5 linked regions of the Homo sapiens genome follow. The protein of the gene in region 1 interacts with the protein of each later gene in a pairwise test. Each region holds a gene or a part of one and is shown on either strand. Other genes may lie near its edges.

What was found.
Region 2: the proteins of NAT2 (region 1) and HMMR interact in a two-hybrid assay, tested with the Homo sapiens proteins (one large-scale study listed by BioGRID and IntAct).
Region 3: the proteins of NAT2 (region 1) and WT1 interact in a two-hybrid assay, tested with the Homo sapiens proteins (one large-scale study listed by BioGRID and IntAct).
Region 4: the proteins of NAT2 (region 1) and MBD4 interact in binary tests that used the Homo sapiens proteins (3 or more experiments, as listed by UniProt).
Region 5: the proteins of NAT2 (region 1) and PPM1D interact in a two-hybrid assay, tested with the Homo sapiens proteins (one large-scale study listed by BioGRID and IntAct).

Annotation. Positions count from the first base shown.
Region 1 is NC_000008.11:18,389,811-18,394,109, forward strand, and holds the start of NAT2 (arylamine N-acetyltransferase 2), read left to right. Parts: upstream 1-1,471; 5' UTR 1,472-1,535; intron 1,536-4,299. UniProt on the Homo sapiens protein: Catalyzes the N- or O-acetylation of various arylamine and heterocyclic amine substrates. Participates in the detoxification of a plethora of hydrazine and arylamine drugs, and is able to bioactivate several known carcinogens.
Region 2 is NC_000005.10:163,467,034-163,470,637, forward strand, and holds part of HMMR (hyaluronan mediated motility receptor), read left to right. Parts: intron 1-667; coding exon 668-715; intron 716-2,607; coding exon 2,608-2,796; intron 2,797-3,604. UniProt on the Homo sapiens protein: Receptor for hyaluronic acid (HA). Involved in cell motility. When hyaluronan binds to HMMR, the phosphorylation of a number of proteins, including PTK2/FAK1 occurs.
Region 3 is NC_000011.10:32,414,975-32,418,578, reverse strand, and holds part of WT1 (Wilms tumor protein), read left to right. Parts: intron 1-924; coding exon 925-1,002; exon of another isoform or gene 1,003-1,155; intron 1,156-2,038; coding exon 2,039-2,089; intron 2,090-3,604. UniProt on the Homo sapiens protein: Transcription factor that plays an important role in cellular development and cell survival. Recognizes and binds to the DNA sequence 5'-GCG(T/G)GGGCG-3'. Regulates the expression of numerous target genes, including EPO.
Region 4 is NC_000003.12:129,430,352-129,433,706, forward strand, and holds the end of MBD4 (methyl-CpG-binding domain protein 4), read right to left. Parts: intron 2,897-3,355; coding exon 2,747-2,896; intron 2,256-2,746; coding exon 2,152-2,255; coding exon of another isoform or gene 2,098-2,151; exon of another isoform or gene 1,825-2,097; intron 1,228-1,824; coding exon 1,150-1,227; 3' UTR 596-1,149; downstream 1-595. UniProt on the Homo sapiens protein: Mismatch-specific DNA N-glycosylase involved in DNA repair. Has thymine glycosylase activity and is specific for G:T mismatches within methylated and unmethylated CpG sites. Can also remove uracil or 5-fluorouracil in G:U mismatches. Has no lyase activity.
Region 5 is NC_000017.11:60,659,153-60,662,756, forward strand, and holds part of PPM1D (protein phosphatase 1D), read left to right. Parts: intron 1-487; exon of another isoform or gene 488-776; intron 777-3,604. UniProt on the Homo sapiens protein: Involved in the negative regulation of p53 expression. Required for the relief of p53-dependent checkpoint mediated cell cycle arrest.

The sequences.
Region 1 (4,299 bases):
AAGTGGAACTGGTAAGTTAAAGAGACTTAGGTTGGGTTTCTCTAAAACCAGGCCACAAGACAAAGATTTGTATTCCAGTGGCTTATTTTGATTTAGGAGATGATTTAAGGAATCACCAGTGCGGGAGTATAACAGTGAACCCAAGACACCTTGAGATCAATAAAAAGGTGCATTGTTGGCAGGCTGCCTGCAAAGAAAGGGAGCATAATCCCAGTAGACAACACCAGGAGGCAGTTTTGTACATGCCTAAGAGTAATCCCACCTTAGCATGTAGAACACAAGGATATTTAGTCTCCAGTTCCCATCATGTGGGCTGAGTGGTGGTCCCAGGTGCTTTAATTTGTAGTCCATCTGCCCAAGCACAGGCCAAAAGAAAGCCTTCCCACAGAGTCCCGAGTTCATGTGGCAGCATGCCAGAGGTATGTACTGGAACAGTAGGTGCTAAAGGCAACAATTACATCATGAAAACTGCACATCTCACTCATATGTGGAATCTAAAAGTAATTTAGCTCATAGAAGTTAAGAGTAGAATAGTTAGAGTAGTAGAAAGTTAAGAGTTGTTACTGGAGAGAAAAGAGGGTATGGAAGCTAGAAAAAAAGCTAGAAGGAAGGATTTTGAATGTTCTCATGACAAAGAGATGATAAATGTTTGAGGTGACAGACATGCTAATTACCATGATTTGATCTTTACACAATGTCTGCATGTATCAGAACATCACACACTACCAAATAAATATATACAATTGTTATGTGTCAAAAAACATTATATACAATGTTTATATTTTATATTAATATTAATGTAAATAAAAATTTACACAAATCTTTTCATTAAATATGGTGTGGATAATTATATTATCTGATGATACCCATGCCACAGGCTAGGAGAAATAAAAATTTACATTAATGTTAATGTCAAAAAAGCAGAAACAAAGCCATATGATACATGTGACACTTATACCACATGCATAGAGTTATTTCAGACACATTGTGTGTTACCTTTGGGTAGAGAAGTGAATGAGAGTGAGGATGAGAGATGAAAAGAGGCAGAAGAAAAAGAGAGGCCTTATAGGAAGTGATGAAAGTGTGCCATAAACTGAGAGTATGACTAAAACCTTTCATCTTCCTCTTCTGCCGCTTCTAAGTTATTGGTTCTGCTGTTCCTTGACCTGTTTCAAGCTCTCACCTTCTATATCACACATGGGAAGTCTGGCATCAGACTTCCAGAGAGCAAGAACTAGGTGAAATACAAGGGCACAGCTCTCCTAGCCTGTGGCATGGGTATCATCAGATAATATAATTATCCACACCATTTTTAACAAAAAGATTTGCGTAAGAGATTCACAGAGGCAACCTGAGGCCCTGCAACTACATTTCCCAGAGATCCCTGAGGTGATCCTAACTAGACTCTGGTGTCAGGGTGATACGGAATTCCAGTGAGATCACTTCCCTTGCAGACTTTGGAAGGGAGAGCACTTTATTACAGACCTTGGAAGCAAGAGGATTGCATTCAGCCTAGTTCCTGGTTGCTGGCCAAAGTAAGTAGAACTTTGTAAGTAATTTGCAGTGTACTTTGAAAGTGGGGTATAAATTAAAAATAAAATCAAGTCCCCCTACTGACTGAATGGATCCCCTCTTGTCCTAGGCGACCCCAGAGAAACCTGGAAAACTAAATTCCAGGCCATAATGGAAAGGGAGGTCAGACACGCCTCATTATACACACTCCCTTTTGGAGTTCAGGCACAACTGACCAGCATTAACATTGAAACAGTGATCATAAGACTGTCAAAATGGACTGTTTGTGGGAATAAGATACCAAATTCCAATCTGACTCTGGTTTAGCATCACATGACAATAGCAGACCCTGAAGGAAATCAATATATTTAATCCCCAAAATATATTTCTTTGACACATATTGAAATGGTCTTGCAAAACCATCTTTTATGGGGAAATTTGCTGGTTTCTGGCTCTGCTCTGATTGAGGAGAGAATAAATGAGAGTCTGACACCTTAAAAATCTGAAAAGAGATATTTACCATCTGTTTTCTCTAAGGCTGCTAGCTGGAGGTTTCATCTACATGACATAAACCATGGTTCCCATAAGCCCTTTTAACTCAAGCATTTAATTGTACTGACCGCAAGTCTTTAGACAAAACTTAACTCTTCAACAAATTGCCAATCACAAAATCTTTGAATCCACCTTTGTCCTGTAAGCTCTCCTACTTCAATATGTCTGATTTTCAGGCAGAGCCAATGTATACCTTATGTGGGGGCCATAGGCTGTTGGCCCCCTAAAGCTTCACTAAAAGTCACTGTCATGTGACAGGTTGATTAATAGGGGAAAGGGAGTACAAATTTATTTAATGTATATACATGGTCTATTAGCCAGGACCCTTTAGAGGGCCAGAACTAATAGGATAGATGTATACATAAAGGGGAGTTTATTAAGGAGTAGTGAGTCACATGATCACAAGGTGACGTCCCACAGTAGGCCGTCTGCAAGCTGAGGAGCAAGGAAGCCAGTCCGAGTCCCAAAACCTCAAAAGTAGGGAAGCCGACAGTGCAGCCTTCAGTCTGTGGTCAAAGGTCCAGGAGTCCAAAGGCTGAAGAACTTGGAGTTTGATGTTTGAGGGCAGGAAGCATCCAGCACAGGAGAAAGATGTAGGCTGGGAGACTAAGCCAGTCTAGTCTTTCCACATTCTTCTGCCTACTTTCATTCTGGCTGTGCTGGCAGCTGATTAGATGGTGCCCACCCGGATTGAGGGTGGGCCTCCCTTTCTCAGTCCACTGATTCAAATGTTAATTTCCTTTGGCAACACCCTCACAGACACACCCAGGAACAATACTTTGAATCCTTCAATCCAATCAAGTTGACACTCAATATTAACCACCACACTTGGGAAACTTGAGAATGAAGACCCAACTTCCCAGTAAGTTACAGAAACTCATGTATTATTCCGAGGCCACAGTAAAGAGTGGAGACTCAAAGCATGGCCAGAAACAGGTAAATTAGTTTTAGTGGCAACACAGGTTAAGAGAGAGAGGAAGGAAGAAGCTCGGCTAGCAAAGGTGGCCTTGTTATGTAGACGAACCTTTTCTCAGAAGCAAAAGATGGTAAATGTTTCTATCCAGATCTTTAAAGGTGTCAGACTCTCAATCGCTCTGGATCCTGGGAAAGGCTTAGAAACAGGAGAGGGTATGGCTGCATTAATGGACATTGTCCACAGACGCAAATTTTCCTCAGTTAAGACAGTTTTGCAATGCCACTTCTGCTTGTTGGCCAGTGGAAACCATTTTTAAATATGTCAAAGAAATATATTTGAGGGTAAAATATTTTGATTTTCTTCAGTCCCCACTTTGAAATTTAAAACAAGTTTCACATACTAAAAGCCAAGGTAATAGCTTTGGGGAGATTTAAGTTAGAGGTGTTTAGATAGAGACAGTCATAGCAGTGGAAAAACACATTTGGGATAAATATAAATGAGCAAATTTAAATATATCATTCCATATTTTCTTTAGGCAGTCCCTTGGTTTTGAGGTGAGATCAGTTCAGTTAAATATCTACGTCCCATTCCAGGAGGTGGGACTGCAAATGGTTTAGGCCTTTAGACGTAATGTAGGCAATCAGATTTCTAGTAGGAGGCATTTCTGTAGAAACAGAAAAAAATAAATAAATAAATGTTACTATCTGGAGTAGTCTATATATCTAGAAAAGCTAGTCTATAGCTTTTTCTCTGAGGCGTCTTCATATTGCAGTGGCAATGTCCCAGATTTCCCTGGAAGTTCAAACCAGGTGTTCCACTGAACTTTCTGAGAAGGCCTCACATCAGCAGATATGCATGAAGGTTGTTTATAAGTTACTGTTATTTTCTCCTGATACCTTCAGTTTGCAAGACTTTAAGAAAACCCCAGTTTTAATTTCTAGTGAATTCAAGTAAGAAAAATGGGAGAAAACGTTGAAAATGTTACTTTGCAGACTTGTAGCCAGAAAAAAATTCAGGATTTGGTCTAACTTGTAAAAAATAATAAAAACTGAAAAAACAATGGGCAAGGCTAGAAGATACTAACAGATACACTATAGTTTTTGAAACATAGTATTTCTGCTTCCAGTTCTTCAATTTTATGAAAGACATAGTTTCATGCACATCCGTGTGAAGAGACCACCAAACAGACTCTGTGTGAGCAACATGGCTGTTTATTTCACCTGGGTGCAGGCGGGCTGAGTCCTAAAAGAGAGTCAGTGAAGGGAGATAAGGGTGGGGCCATTTTATAGGATTTGGATAGATAAAAGAAAAGTACAGTC
Region 2 (3,604 bases), on another chromosome or scaffold:
CATGGAGTGTGAAATTAATAAACATGACACTGATGTCACCCCCACCTCCTGCCCCACTTAGAAACATCTGAAACAGATTTCATTCAAGATGTTGATGCCTTTCTTCCATTTTTAGATGGAAAAGATATTCTTTTTCTAGCCATTGTGTCAGAAAGTCTGTTGGATATAAAAAGATATAGTGTGAAAATTATATGTCTTATTTAGAATAAAGCCAATGAGAAAATTAGAATCAGAGCTTATGCTGTTTCAGTTTTTATTTCTTTGCATCTGTATATTTTCCTCTTCGGGTATCAAAGTTTAAGTCGATTTCTCTTTGTAAGATTCTTTCTGAGATAGCATAATTAAATATTCAAGATGTGTTGCTATTTAACATTAGAGGGAGGCAGTCAGTAGCTTTATTCATAAAGTTCCACCTGTTCTTTTCACTGGGCTGATTAGGAAAATCCTGATTTATTGGGTTGAAAATTTCTAAACCTAAAATGTCTTGAGATTTTTAGAATATTTTATTTATCAGATGAGTGGCCTACACAATGTTTAACAGTGTAATGTTTAAAATAGAAACTAACTGATTGGATCCCTTCATCTTTTCTGATAACTGAAAAACAAATTTGGCTGTCATATCTGTGACATCTAAATTTGCTTATAAGTTTTTTTGGCTTTTAAACAGAAGGAATCTCAAAAGAATGATAAAGATTTGAAGATATTAGAGAAAGAGGTAAGCAGTGCTTTAAACTTAGTGAAAAGTACACATGATAGAAAGAGAGTTACACAGATTTAAGAGATAAGGATTCTGTTGCAGTGTGAGGAGTCCTGCAGTGAGGCAAACATGCCATCCAGAACAGTGCCTACAGGAAAACAGTTCTTACAGTATTTCACAGATCTATCCGGGCTATGTTAATGTGGTATGCTGGCAACGCCGAGATTAAAGATAGCCCACTTAATGAAAAACTGATAACTGAAAAATCATTATGTCAGTTGATTACAATTATATATGTGGATCAAATATTTATATCTATCCATCGTTCACAGTCTTCCTGTATGCTAACTTATGTTAACACAACATAGCTAGAGGATTTCTTAGTGAGCATGCAATCCTAGCTGGTTAGACTGTGATGAAGTTAGGCTAACTCGATGCATTGCTCTGCACAATAGGTATAGGCCTTCCTCATGGGTGAAATAACATAGAGCTGTGCTGTTTGATATGGTAGCTACTCACCACATGTGATGATCTAAATTAAATAAGAACTCAATTCCTCAGTTGCAATAATCACATTTCAAGTGCTCAGTAGCCACATGTGATTGGCAGCTACCATACTGGACAGGGCATTTCCACCATGACAGAAATTTCTATTGAACAGTACTAACCTAAAGAACCCATTTACTTTCCTAGCAATGCTAAGCAGCTCACTGTGAACTTTGCTTCTCTGCAGTCTTTTTTTTCTGTTTCCATTGCTGACCAACTCTTTTCCTCATGGATATATTCTTTCAATATATTAAAATCTTTCATTTGATTACAGTCGAATGTTGGCTTTCAACCAAGAGTATGTCAGAGTAACTGTAAATGTCTGCTCAGTTGCTCTGATTCTTTTTTATGTATTCTAATAATGTTAGCTATCATTTTACTGAGGGTACATGTAGGGGTTGATACTTACAGGAATAATCACTGAGTCTCAGTGAGATAGCTGGTAAGTGAGTGGTAGAGCCAGGATTAGAACTAATAATTTACACCAGTGACTTCATTGGGTATAGAATTTTAGGGTGGCAGGTTCCCCCCCATTATATTAAAAATATCATTTCATTGTCTTTTGGCTTCCACATTTTCTGTTGACAAATATTGGTTTGGGTTTTTTTTTGTTTTTTGTTTTTTTAATCTGGTAATAGCAGCAAGAATGATGGCTTGCCAATGCCTAGTACATTCTCCTCAGAAGCCCAGCTCTGCCTTCTTGAAATAAAAAACATTTAGCATTTTAAGCTAATTTGAATTTGTGTAATTGAAGCTAGAGAAAATAACTATTATAGGTGGAAATACCTTAAAAGTGAATAAATAGCGGCCGGGTGTGGTGGCTTACACCTGTAATCCTAGCACTTTGGGAGGCTGAGGCGGGTGGATCACGAGGTCAGGAGATCGAGACCATCCTGGCTAATATGGTGAAACCCCGTCTCTATTAAAAATACAAAAAATTAGCCGGGTGTGGTGGCCCGTGCTGGTAGTCCCAGCTATTCGGGAGGCTGAGGCAGGAGAATCGCTTGAACCCAGGAGGCGGAGCTTGCAGTGAGCCGAGATCGTGCCACTGCACTCCAGCCTGGGCAACAGAGCACAGAGCAAGACTCCATCTCAAAAAAAAAAAAAAAAAAGTGAATAGATAGCTTAATTGTACTTGGAACTTATGGCAACTAAAGTTCTTATGTTCTTAAAATGCATTAAGACTTTTAAGATGTATCATAGGTAAATATGATTATTCAAATAGCTAGTAACATTAGAATATCTACAAGCATAATGTCAAAATCAGAGATTTTTCCAGAAACTTTAGGGGTGATTATTGGTAGCATCTCCTTATGTTGGCATTCTATCAGTGAATCATTTATTATCACCTTGTTTTTGTCCAGATTCGTGTTCTTCTACAGGAACGTGGTGCCCAGGACAGGCGGATCCAGGATCTGGAAACTGAGTTGGAAAAGATGGAAGCAAGGCTAAATGCTGCACTAAGGGAAAAAACATCTCTCTCTGCAAATAATGCTACACTGGAAAAACAACTTATTGAATTGACCAGGACTAATGAACTACTAAAATCTAAGGTATCTGAGCCTCATGATAATATTTACAATTGAATAAATATAAACACGTTTTTTAGGGCCGGGCACGGTGGCTCACGCCTGTGTTCCCAGCATTTTGGGAGGCCAAGGCAGGCGGATCACCTGAGGTCGGGAGTTCGAGACCAGCCTGACCAACATGGAGAAACCCTGTCTCTACTAAAAATACAAAAATTAGCTAGGCCTATTGGCGGGCGCCTGTAATCTCAGCTACTCGGGAGGCTGAGGCAGAAGAATCACTTGAACCCAGGAGGTGGAGGTTGCAGTGAGCTGACATGGCGCCATTGCACTTCAGCCTAGGCAAGAGAGTGCGACTCCATCTCAAAAAACAAAACAAAACAAAACAACATACACCAGGCGATTCAGATTCATTTTGTTAAGCAAACATGTTTCAAGAAATCCTTTCTCAGGGACTTGCTTTAGAGTCTTGCAATGGACTTTCCAGCATATAGAGGTAAGTGACCACCCAAACAACCTTTCAAAAATGAACCAACAGGCCAGCCACAGTGGCTCACACCTGTAATTCCAGCGCTTTGGGAAGCTGAGACGGATGGATCACTTGAGGTCAGGATTTTGAGACTAGCCTAGCCTAACATGGCGAAACCCCATCTTTACTAAAAATACAAAAATTAGTCAGGTATGGTGGCGTACACCCGTAATTCCAGCTACTCAGGAGGCTGAGGCATGAGAATAGCTTGAACTCGGGAGGCTGAGGCATGAGAATAGCTTGAACTCGGGAGGTGGAAGTTGCAGTGAGCAACACGGCACTCCAGCCTGGGTGACAGAGTGAGAC
Region 3 (3,604 bases), on another chromosome or scaffold:
CATTTCTGCCATGAAGGTAGAGTGAAATTTTTCTTCTGTAAAGTGTTTAGACCAAGAGGTCCCAGAAAAACTCTTGGTCTCTTGGGTCTCAAATTTCATAATTAACCATTTCAGTTCAGGCATAAATTTATTCCTGATGGAGCTTGGTAATTTAGGAGATTTCTGGCAATTGATTCATGTGCTAATTTTCTAGGAATGAGATAAATACAGAGGGGACAGAACAGCTTTTTGTTGGTTTACATAGCGGTGTAAGACTTCTTTGGAGTCTTAATGTAAATGATAAGCCATTTCCCTCATAGAGTCTTATAGAACTGGGCTCTTTTTTTTTTTTTTTAATTTGACTTGTACCAGGATTATAAAACATATAGAAAATGATTCCTTCCGCTGTGCATAGAGTTTATCATCGTCTTTCTTCTGCTTGTCACATCCTTGCTTTTTAGACCATTTATCACCCATCACTCTGACTTTTCAGACCCTCATAATCCACATGATACTTATCCTTTTGATTAAAACAACTTAATGGCCTTTTCACGAATAATTAATCTGCTGTCTTTACTTTCAGCTCCAGGCTTTTAACTTTAATGTTGAGTTATCCAGCCTGTGTTGCCTTTCAAAGTTTCACTCCCCTTAGCCTTTTCCCCTCAAAGGTTTAATACTTCTTTAGAAACTTCAATAGTTGCTATACAAAGGTTTTAAAAAATGCTTCTGAGTTACTCTCACATCCCTTCTGCTGTGTATGAAGTGTATAACTGTGCAGAGATCAGTGGGATGAAATGAAAATAATTCAGATTTGCATATTCTGTCATTCTGGAAAATGTGGAGGCTTGCACTTTCAAGAAAAGTTAAAACTCCATTGCTTTTGAAGAAACAGTTGTGTATTATTTTGTGGTTATGTGTTTCTAACTCTAGATGTTTTTCTAACAGTGACAATTTATACCAAATGACATCCCAGCTTGAATGCATGACCTGGAATCAGATGAACTTAGGAGCCACCTTAAAGGGGTAAGGTTTTCTCTATTCCATTGCCTTTCCACAGTAACTTATACCTGTTTGAACCATTTCAAAGGTGCTTAGAACTTATGAAGAAAGTACAGTTTTAGAAGAAAGGGCAAAGCTCTCTGTGACATTAGAACGCTTTCCTCCTTCCCCTAGTTGGTGAGTTGTGTTCAGTATTAAATTTTCAAAAACATAAATGTGGGTTGTTTCTATCTGGAACAAGGAATATTGAGGACACTTATTATGGTCTTGTTGAATGTTTTATAATTCTTCAAAGGCTATTCAACCTCATTTAATAATTGTGTTTTACTATGATATCACAGTTGTTAACCATTCCACTATCTTATCAAGAAGTGCTTTGGGTGTGCAAAGTCCGGGATCCAAATTTGTATTTGTGTGATGCTGATCTGGGCAATTCACAGTCAGATACGCCCATACCTGATTGCACCAACAGGGTTTTTCTTTCCATACTTGATAATACAACCATAATAGGGAGAATACAGCCAGGAAACATCAGAAGGAGCTACTCTTTGCACCTAAAAATGAAAAAATAAAAAAAAGAAGGCAGGTGGGACTTGCTTTCACCATTGAAAGAGCTCACTTTTCATTTTCTACCAAGTGTGAAGAGATGGGCAGTAGCATAGAACACTCATGAAGTGCCTGCAGCGTGTCAGGTGTCCTTCCAGGTTACCTCATCTTATCTTCCCAACACTCTCATGAGAGCTAAGTACTGCTTGGTTTACAGATAAGTAAACCAAGCTCAGAGGGTTAAGTTACTTCCCAGGTTCACATCCTACTAAGTGCTAGAGCTGGGATGCCAAGTCCAGATCTGATTCCAAAGCCCAAGCTCTTTGCAGCCTCCGGTGGTGCCTTCCACCCCACCATTGGCCCCAGTGGGACTGGGGACTTAGTTCAGCACTCTTGATAGCTAGCTTGATGTCTCTGTGTATTGAGGGGCTTTTCACTGGATTCTGGGATCTGGGGGGCTTGCCAGATCCATGCATGCTCCATTCCCCACTCCCCACCTCTTCTTCTTTTCTAGAGTTGCTGCTGGGAGCTCCAGCTCAGTGAAATGGACAGAAGGGCAGAGCAAGTGAGTGGACAATGCGGAGATGGCAAAGCAAATGGCGTAGGCCTTGCTGACTGGCACCTGGGGCAATGCAGGAGTTAGGACTGACGTGGGTAATCAGGGTAGCATTTGGTGGATGGGAAGAATCTCTCTCCCCCGCCCCCACCTCTTCTTATTCATCATACACATGCTGGGGACAAAATGGAGGGAGTAGCATTTCTCATCAACATGCCCCTGGAAAACAATGTAAAAAATTATGCAGCATCCTGTTCATTTCTTTGTGAATACTTCACAAAATACTAAATACTAAATTTGTGGCATTACAACCATAATGCCACATGTTCCTGTTAGATCAGTCAAAGCTTTCAGTCTTAACTTGCTTCTTCTTTATTTACCTTTAAATCTCTCAGGGAGAACTTACCCTAAGTCTGAGGCCAGGCTTTGAAAAGACTTGTTTTTTGTTGTTTTTCAAAGTTTGTTTTTATTCCCAAACATTCGCACCTTCCCCAGCCCTGTACCCTGCACCTTGGGGAATTTCTGTAGCTGTTTCTTTTTCTTCTCTCTGCTTTAACTCCACAACCAGCCGCCCTCTTTTCTTCTTTATTGTGTGGGCCCAGTCCTGTTATTTGGTTCATCCTTCAGTAATCAACAGAGTTGTATTTCATCTTCCAAGACTTACTGTTAGGTTCTTCACCTCACCCCCGCCCCCAAATTTTTCAGCAGTTTTATCCAGATCTCCTCTTCCTCTCTCTGGACCACAAAGAAAAGGCTTTCTGTTGTTTTAAATTATTTCTCTCCTGTCTTCCATCTGGGGGACTGCTGACAGTTTTAGCATTCTGTCTTTCTACCCATTCTCTTTTCTTTTTGAGACGGAGTTTAGCTCTTGTCGCCCAGGCTGGAGTGCAATGGTGCCATCTCGCTCACCGCAACCTCCACCTCCCGGGTTCAAGCGATTCTCCTGCCTCAGCCTCCCCAGTAGCTGGGATTACAGGCATGTGCCACCACGCCCGGCTAATTTTGTATTTTTAGTAGAGATGGGGTTTCTCCATGTTGGTCAGTCTGGTGTCAAACTCCCGACCTCAGGTGATCCGCCCACCTTGATCTCCCGAAGTGCTGGGATTACAGGCGTGAGCCACCGTGCCTGGCCTTTCTACCTGTTCTTAACTCGTCTTAAGTTCCTTGGCTTCTTGGTCCCACCCTTTCTTTCTGGCTCCCTTCCTTTTCTCCTTTCTCCTCTCCTCAGAACTTGATAACCTTCCCCAAGCTAAATAGCAAGGATAGACAGAACATGATTGTGAAGTGAGCAGTACATTTCAGTTTCAAAAACTTCTTCATGCTGTAATACAGGGGCTTGTTTGTTCAGTTACAAAAATTACAGATAAGGAATTTGGCATGTATTTGCAGCTGGATATTTCCATGGTTAAGATAATTTCGATACTTTTTAAGGTCTTTAGACATGTACTGTTAGTCACTTGCTGAGGAGGCAGAAGCTGTATTATAAGGATGAAGCACAAAGTGTGAACAATTTGTTCTGTTCAA
Region 4 (3,355 bases), on another chromosome or scaffold:
TGGTAATTAAGACATAGTAACTAGTTTTTTCCCTTGGTTTCTTTCTAATAGTAAATGCTTTGGTATTTGAACTGTAACAATACTTGTAATAAAAATGGCATTAAGACTTATTTTTTTTAAGACAGGGTCTTGCTGTGTCATCCAGGCTGAAGTGCAGTGGTGTGATCATAGCTCACTGCAGCCTCAATCTCCTGGGCTCAAGGGATTCTCCCACCTCAGCCTTCTGAGTAGCTGGGACCACAAGTGTATGTCACCATGCCCAATTAATTTTTAAAATTTTTTGTAGAGACGGGGTCTCATTATGTTGCCCAGTCTGGTTTTGAACTCCTGGGCTCAAGCAATCCTCCTGCCTCAGCCTCCCAAAGTGCTAGGATTACAGGTGTAAGCCACTGTGCCTGGCCAAATGGTATAAACTCCAAATGGAAGATGAGAAATGAGTTTTCACAAAGGGACCAAGGTAAAAGAGTGAGTGAGCTGAAATGGAGCAGCAGGCCCATATTCACATTAGGTTATCAAATGGATACTGGGGTGGAATCTACAATTCCTAAGAGCTAGTGTGGAGCTGTCAACAATACACAATGCCAGAGGAATCTTATTTGTCTTTGGGGTCAGCTTTTATTTTTATTTTTTAAATATATATTTTTTGAGACAGGGTCTCTCTCTGTCATCCAGACTGGAGTGCAGTGGCATGATCATGGCTCACTGAAGCCTTGACCTCCTGGGCCCTCATGAGCTCAAATGATCCTCCTGCCTCAGCCTTCCGAGATTACAGGCATGCACCACCACGCCTAGCCGATAAAAATATTTAGTGGGCCCCTAGCTTTAGCAAGGCTGATAGAAATTTGCTTTGTATTATTGATAGTTTAGAACTATTTTTCATCTTCTGATTATATTTCATCATTGGAAAAGCCGTATTTTTTTTGGATTGTTGTCAAATAATAATTTATTTTAAAAAAATCTCAAAACATGTTCAAACACATTCAGTAGCAAAGATCCACCATTGGCACACACATTAAGAAAGCACACACACTAGGCTTCTAGTTGGGCTAATTAAAATCTCTATGGCTGGAAAGGTGGTTGGTTGTACTTAATTAAGCTTTTTTGAAGTGCAAAGCTATGCATAACAGATGAGCTTGAAAGCTGCAGAGTTTAAGATAGACTTAATTTTTCATGATTTTCCCAAAGCCAGTCATGATATTTATTTAATTTGTGGTCTTCAGGGTGCACCTGGAAGAAACATAAGATACAGAGGCAGAGACCTTAATGTAACTTAGTCAGAAATACATTTTTTAAAATTGGCTTTTTAAATGTTTGCTGGGGGACAGTACATTACGATACCATACCTAAAAGTTATAACCTTTAACCTCCTGGGATTCATGAATATTTTAAGTTATACCTTATATTAAGGTAATCTCACACAATTTACAAGGTACTGTCCAAATTACTACTCAACCATGACTTAGAATGTGGGGTGGCGATAACATGAGTCAAGTATTAATACCTCACTTTCCAGAAGGAGGTTCTAGACCGAGAGGTTAAATGGATTCTCAGGTCACAATGGATTGCTCTGATGAAGCTGGGATAGGACCATGGTCCTTCAGTTCAGGCTTGGCCAGACCTACTGGCTGAATGCATGAGGGTGAGTCTCAAGCTGAGTGGGCAGCATACCAGGCCACCCACCAGCTGCCAGGATGACCACCAGCATGCCACAGGCTGGGCATATTCAACAGGGCTGAAGCAGGACCCAGTCACCACAAACGTAGTCTGAGACCACTAAGAGAAACCCAATATGCATACATTGCAGGCCCAAACCTTCCTGCTTTCCTGTAGTGGTGTACTTTTGACAGGAGGAAAACCACGTCAGGCTTAGAGATAGCACACAAATAGGGAATGACAGGAACAGGGCCAGAGGTGACAAACCACTGGAGATGAGTCAGAGGCCACGCCGCTGGACTGGTCTTTGTGGACTTGGGAGCGCCTACTGATCAAAAACCCCAAAACCCACATGCCACCCGCTTCCCCGCAGCCAGGAACACAATTGTTTGTGACTGTAATAGCATTTGTATCCAATAAATAGTCTTAACCATAATGGTGGACTTATTTTGCCTCAGAGACCAAATGTGCTGAATTATGGATGGGAGTGAGCCTCACCTGCTTCCACTCATTGACACAAAAAATTCGGTAAGAGTCGTTGCCATATTTACCAATCCCATGAAGCTCAATTGGATACTTCCACTGCTTTGTCAGGTATTCATCTGAAGAATACAACATCCCACATTATCAGGTCAGCTTCTAAAGACACCCTCCCAAAATGTGTGGTGATGGGGCAGGATGGAGAGAACAGCAGAAAGGGACAGGAAAGGCTCTTTCCCAGCAACCCCAGTTGTGATTACTCTTCCTTCTGAATTCCTGCAGCACCCATATCATTTGCCAATTCCTAACCACTCTTTTGTGCTGTGCTAACAAGACAGAAGTCATGTCCTTGAGGTCAAGAACTGGGCTTTCTGCTTCACTGACTTCTTCCCCTAATTCTGCCCACATGCCTGACCCAGTGCTGGGCAAAGATTTATTGTTTAGGTCAGTGGGAGACTGTGGTTTGGGGAAAGTGGACTTTTTTAAATGCCTTGGGTGCTTGAGCTGAAAAACCTCCATTAATATAGTATCTGAGAACATTAAAGTTTAAGGTGTGGCTCTCTTAAATAAGCACAATGTATTATGTTTTTCCTTTGGGTGTATAGGAAAATACCTGAGAACTTGACAATGGTTTTTGCCCGAAGATCGTAGAGACCAAGAGGTTTAAGAAGTTCTGACACATCTCTCCAGTCTGCGGTTCTTGCTACCTCAGCTGAAGGATACTTCTCCAGAAACTTCCAAAGCACAGGTATTGCCATTTTGCCTGGGAAGTAAAAGTAACTGAATGATTACAAGACTCCAGGTGGGCTGATTTCATGTTCAAGTAGTTTCTCATAGAAATCTCATCCAGAGGGTTTTTTTTTTTAAAGAAAACAAAAAACAAAAAAACACTGGTGAGAAGCCATTATCTGAACCAGCAACCACTTTCAGAATCAAATGCCAAAACTGCTAATATATTGGGCTAATAGTCCAAATTATGCTGAAAACTGGCCTTGCATGATTAGCTTTTAAATGATCAGATCAGCAGATAATGAGAGTAGAAGCATATAGAACACAAGGTACATTCAGTGAAAAAGATACTTTTAAACACACATGAAAGAGGGTGGAGAAACGTTAACTGATTTTCACTGATGATCAAAAAGAATTTGGAAGTATAAAATAAATAAAATCTACCTCTTTATTCTAAAAGGTCTGTTGGATGTCATCCAGTCTCATTTCCTCA
Region 5 (3,604 bases), on another chromosome or scaffold:
GATTTCTGCCCAAGAAATTGTTTTTGGTTTGTTTTATTTACCTTAATTGACATAAAGGTGAGTACTCCTGACTATATTTAATTTACATCATTATTAAAGTTGTCTCATGTTTAGTAACATAGAGATAAATTTAATTATAATGTGGTTAATGTTGAACAGTCAGAGACTTAATCACATTTAGACAAGGCATTTGAGACTAGATTTGTCTGTAAACATGTCAGCTTCCATTTGAATTCTCACATAAATTAGTCTTTGTTTTGGGATGGAGATAGTGGAAAAGCCTTTGTTTAAGTAAGATAGATTACTATGACACACATTTCTTTCTCTGTCCTTTGTTTAGGGCAAAACTAAATTTAGCTATGTTTTACAAGCTAAGATCTTTAAGAACGGAATGGGGAAGAGAGCAAAGAGTTTCAGAAAATTAAAACTTAGTTTTAGTTGCATTTTAGGCACAGTTTGTAATTAATTGTTTAATATTGGATTACAGGGTAGATGGGAGGAGAAAGTTGATCTCTGAAGCAGTGAACTTTTTTAAAGTATGTATTTTTAGGGGTAACCTCAATATCACATAACTGTTTTACGAACATGCAGGCCTTAGCAATACAAATTAACCTGGGGTACATCTAAGAAGTCTAAACAGTTGCCTGTGCTAACAGATACAATGTATTCCCACAGAATGCCAATAAAAAGAGAATTCCCTTCAGAAATGTTCAAGAAGAAAGTAGGGGAAGGGAAGCCAGCACACCTGTGGTGTCAGAATAATATTCTGTGCATTTAGGCTGGGTGTGGTGGCTCACGCCTGTAATCCCAGCACTTTGGGAGGCCGAGGCGGGTGGATCACAAGGTCAGGAGTTCGAGGCCAATATGGTGAAACCCTGTTTCTACTAAAAATACAAAAATTAGCTGGGTGTGGTGACATGTGCCTGTAATCCCAGCACTTTGGGAGGCCGAGGCAGGCTGATCACCCGAGGTCAGGAGTTTGAGACCAGCCTGGCCAACATGGTGAAATCCTGTCTTTACTAAGAATACAAAAGTTAGCTGGGTGTGGTGGTGGGTGCCTGTGATCCCAGCTACTTGGGAGGCTGAGGCAGGAGAATCGCTTGAACCCAGGAGGCGGAGGTTGCATTGAGCCAAGACTGTGCCATTGCACTCCAGCCTGGGCAACAAGAATGAAACTCTGTCTCAAAAAGAAACAAAAACAAAAAAACAGAGAAGTGATGTATTTGGGGCAGTACCAGATTAGTAACTAGAAATTCTTTGTCCTTTTCTTCAGTGTCCATTGGTCCTAAAGTCTATATATATATGTGTTTTTCAGTAAAGCATATTCATATCTATGATTAGATCGAGATCATTTTAGAAACGAGTTTCTGGGCCGGGTGTGGTGGGTCACTTAAGGTCAGGAATTTGAGACCAGCCTGGCCAACATGGTGAAACCCCATCTCTACTGAAAATACAAAAATTAGCTGGGCATGGTGGTGAGCACCTCTAACCCCAGCTACTCGGGAGGGTGAGGTGGGAGAATCGCTTGAACCCGGGAGGCAGAGGTTGCAGTGAACAGAGATCGCGCCACTGCACTCCAGCCTGGGTGACAGAGCAAGACTCGGCCTCAAAAAAAGAAAAAAGGAAGCTTCTGGATGCCTTCAATTTCCCTTTCATTTTATTTTTTGAACCTCCCTGCCTCCCTTATTTCCCTTTGTTTTTAACTCTAGACAAATTAAAGGAAACATTCCTATGATAAGTATACTTTTATATAGCACTTCTAAGAAAGTTGTATATTCAGGCTGGGCGCAGTGGCTCACGCCTGTTATCACAGCACTTTGAGAGGCCGAGGCGGACAGATCACCTGAGGTCAGGAGATCGAGACCAGCCTGACCAACATGGAGAAACCCTGTCTCTACTAAAAATACAAAAAAAAAATTAGCTGGGCATGGTGGCGCATGCCTGTAGTCCTAGCTACTCAGGAGGCTGAGGCAGGAGAATCCCTTGAACCTGGGAGGCAGAGGTTGTGGTGAACCAAGATTGTGCCATTGCACTCCAGCCTGGGCAACAAGAGCGAAACTCCATCTCAAAAAAAAAAAAAAAAAAAAAGGAAAGGTGTTTATTTATAGGAGATTTTATTTCGGAGAAAGATCAGATAAATACGTCTTCATTTGCTGCTCTGCTTGGGCTTTTCAGAATCTATTAATATTTTGATACATTTGATTGAGAGTCCACTTGAGGAAAATTTTACATGTTTGGGGGAGAGAGTATTTATGCTTTAACTCTGGACCTTGATAAAGTATTAAGACAATGATTTTATGAAATGTTATTACTTTGGAAGAGCTGGGTTTGATAGTAAGAATGTTCTTATCTGGAGGTGAGCGGCTATTCTGAGTATATGTAGATTTAGAGCACTACACTCAAAGTAGTGGTGCATATCTAGATTGACATGAAGCGTTGTGAAAACAGCATTTTTAAAAACAATAAAGTGCCTTGGATAATTCTCATTTGTTTTCATCAATTGGGAATTTCCCTAACCATTCTCAGAATGGTCCCATGTGTACTACTTTTCTCAAATCACAGAGCAGTATCTAGTGTTTGCAGGATGGGTGCAAAGCAGCATTCTTCTGAGTTTCCATTATGACCATTATGACATAGTTGCTTTAATGTTGTACTTTGCTTTAATGATGTGCTTTAATGTTGTAATGCTTTCCACACTACATACTCAGAAATTAGAATTTAGGAGATAGGATAAACCAAAAAACTACAAATTTGTTGCTTATCCTACTGAGATGCTACCATCCCCTCCAGTGGTTACACTGGTTTTCATTACTAGAAAATTCAGATTTTTATTTTTAATTTTAATATTTATTTATTTATTGTGAGACGGAGTCTCACTCCGTCACCCAGGCTGGAGTGCAGTGGTGCGATCTCTGCTCTCTGCAGCCTCCACCTCCTGGGCTCAAGCAGTTCTCCTGTCTCAGCCTCCAGAGTAGCTGGGATTACAGGTGCACACCACCATGCCTGGCTAATTTTTGTATTTTTAGTAGAGACGCAGTTTCACCATGTTGGCCAGGCTGGTTTTGAACTCCTGACCTCAAATGATCTGCCCGCCTCGACCTCCCAAAGTGCTGGGATTACAGGGGTTAGCCAGTGTGCCCGGCCAAAAATTGAGATCTTTAAAAGCTTTTTTTTCTTTTTTGAAATAGGGAACGCTTCATGAATTTGTGTCATCTTTGCACAGGGGCCATGCTAATCTTCTTTGTATCATTCCAATTTTAGTATATGTGCTGCTGTAGTAAGCACTTAATGGCATCTTAAAGCAATTTTTTGATGGTTCTTATGGAAAAATATGACTTTTATGAAAAATAGAGCGATTTCATCAGCATTATGTTATTACCAAAAGTAAATTAAAATGCACACAGAGAATGCGATACTTTTGATCTTCTCCATGTTTGAGTACAGAATAGTGGAAGAGTGAATGTGTGCCTATGGTTAATTTTGAGGGTTTGTTTTGAAATCTTGTTCCTTAATGTATCTTATTTTTGTTTACCTGCCAATGGATAGAAAATGCTTGTGACCACGTGAATTTTCACCCACTTGAATAGATTACTTTATAATTTCA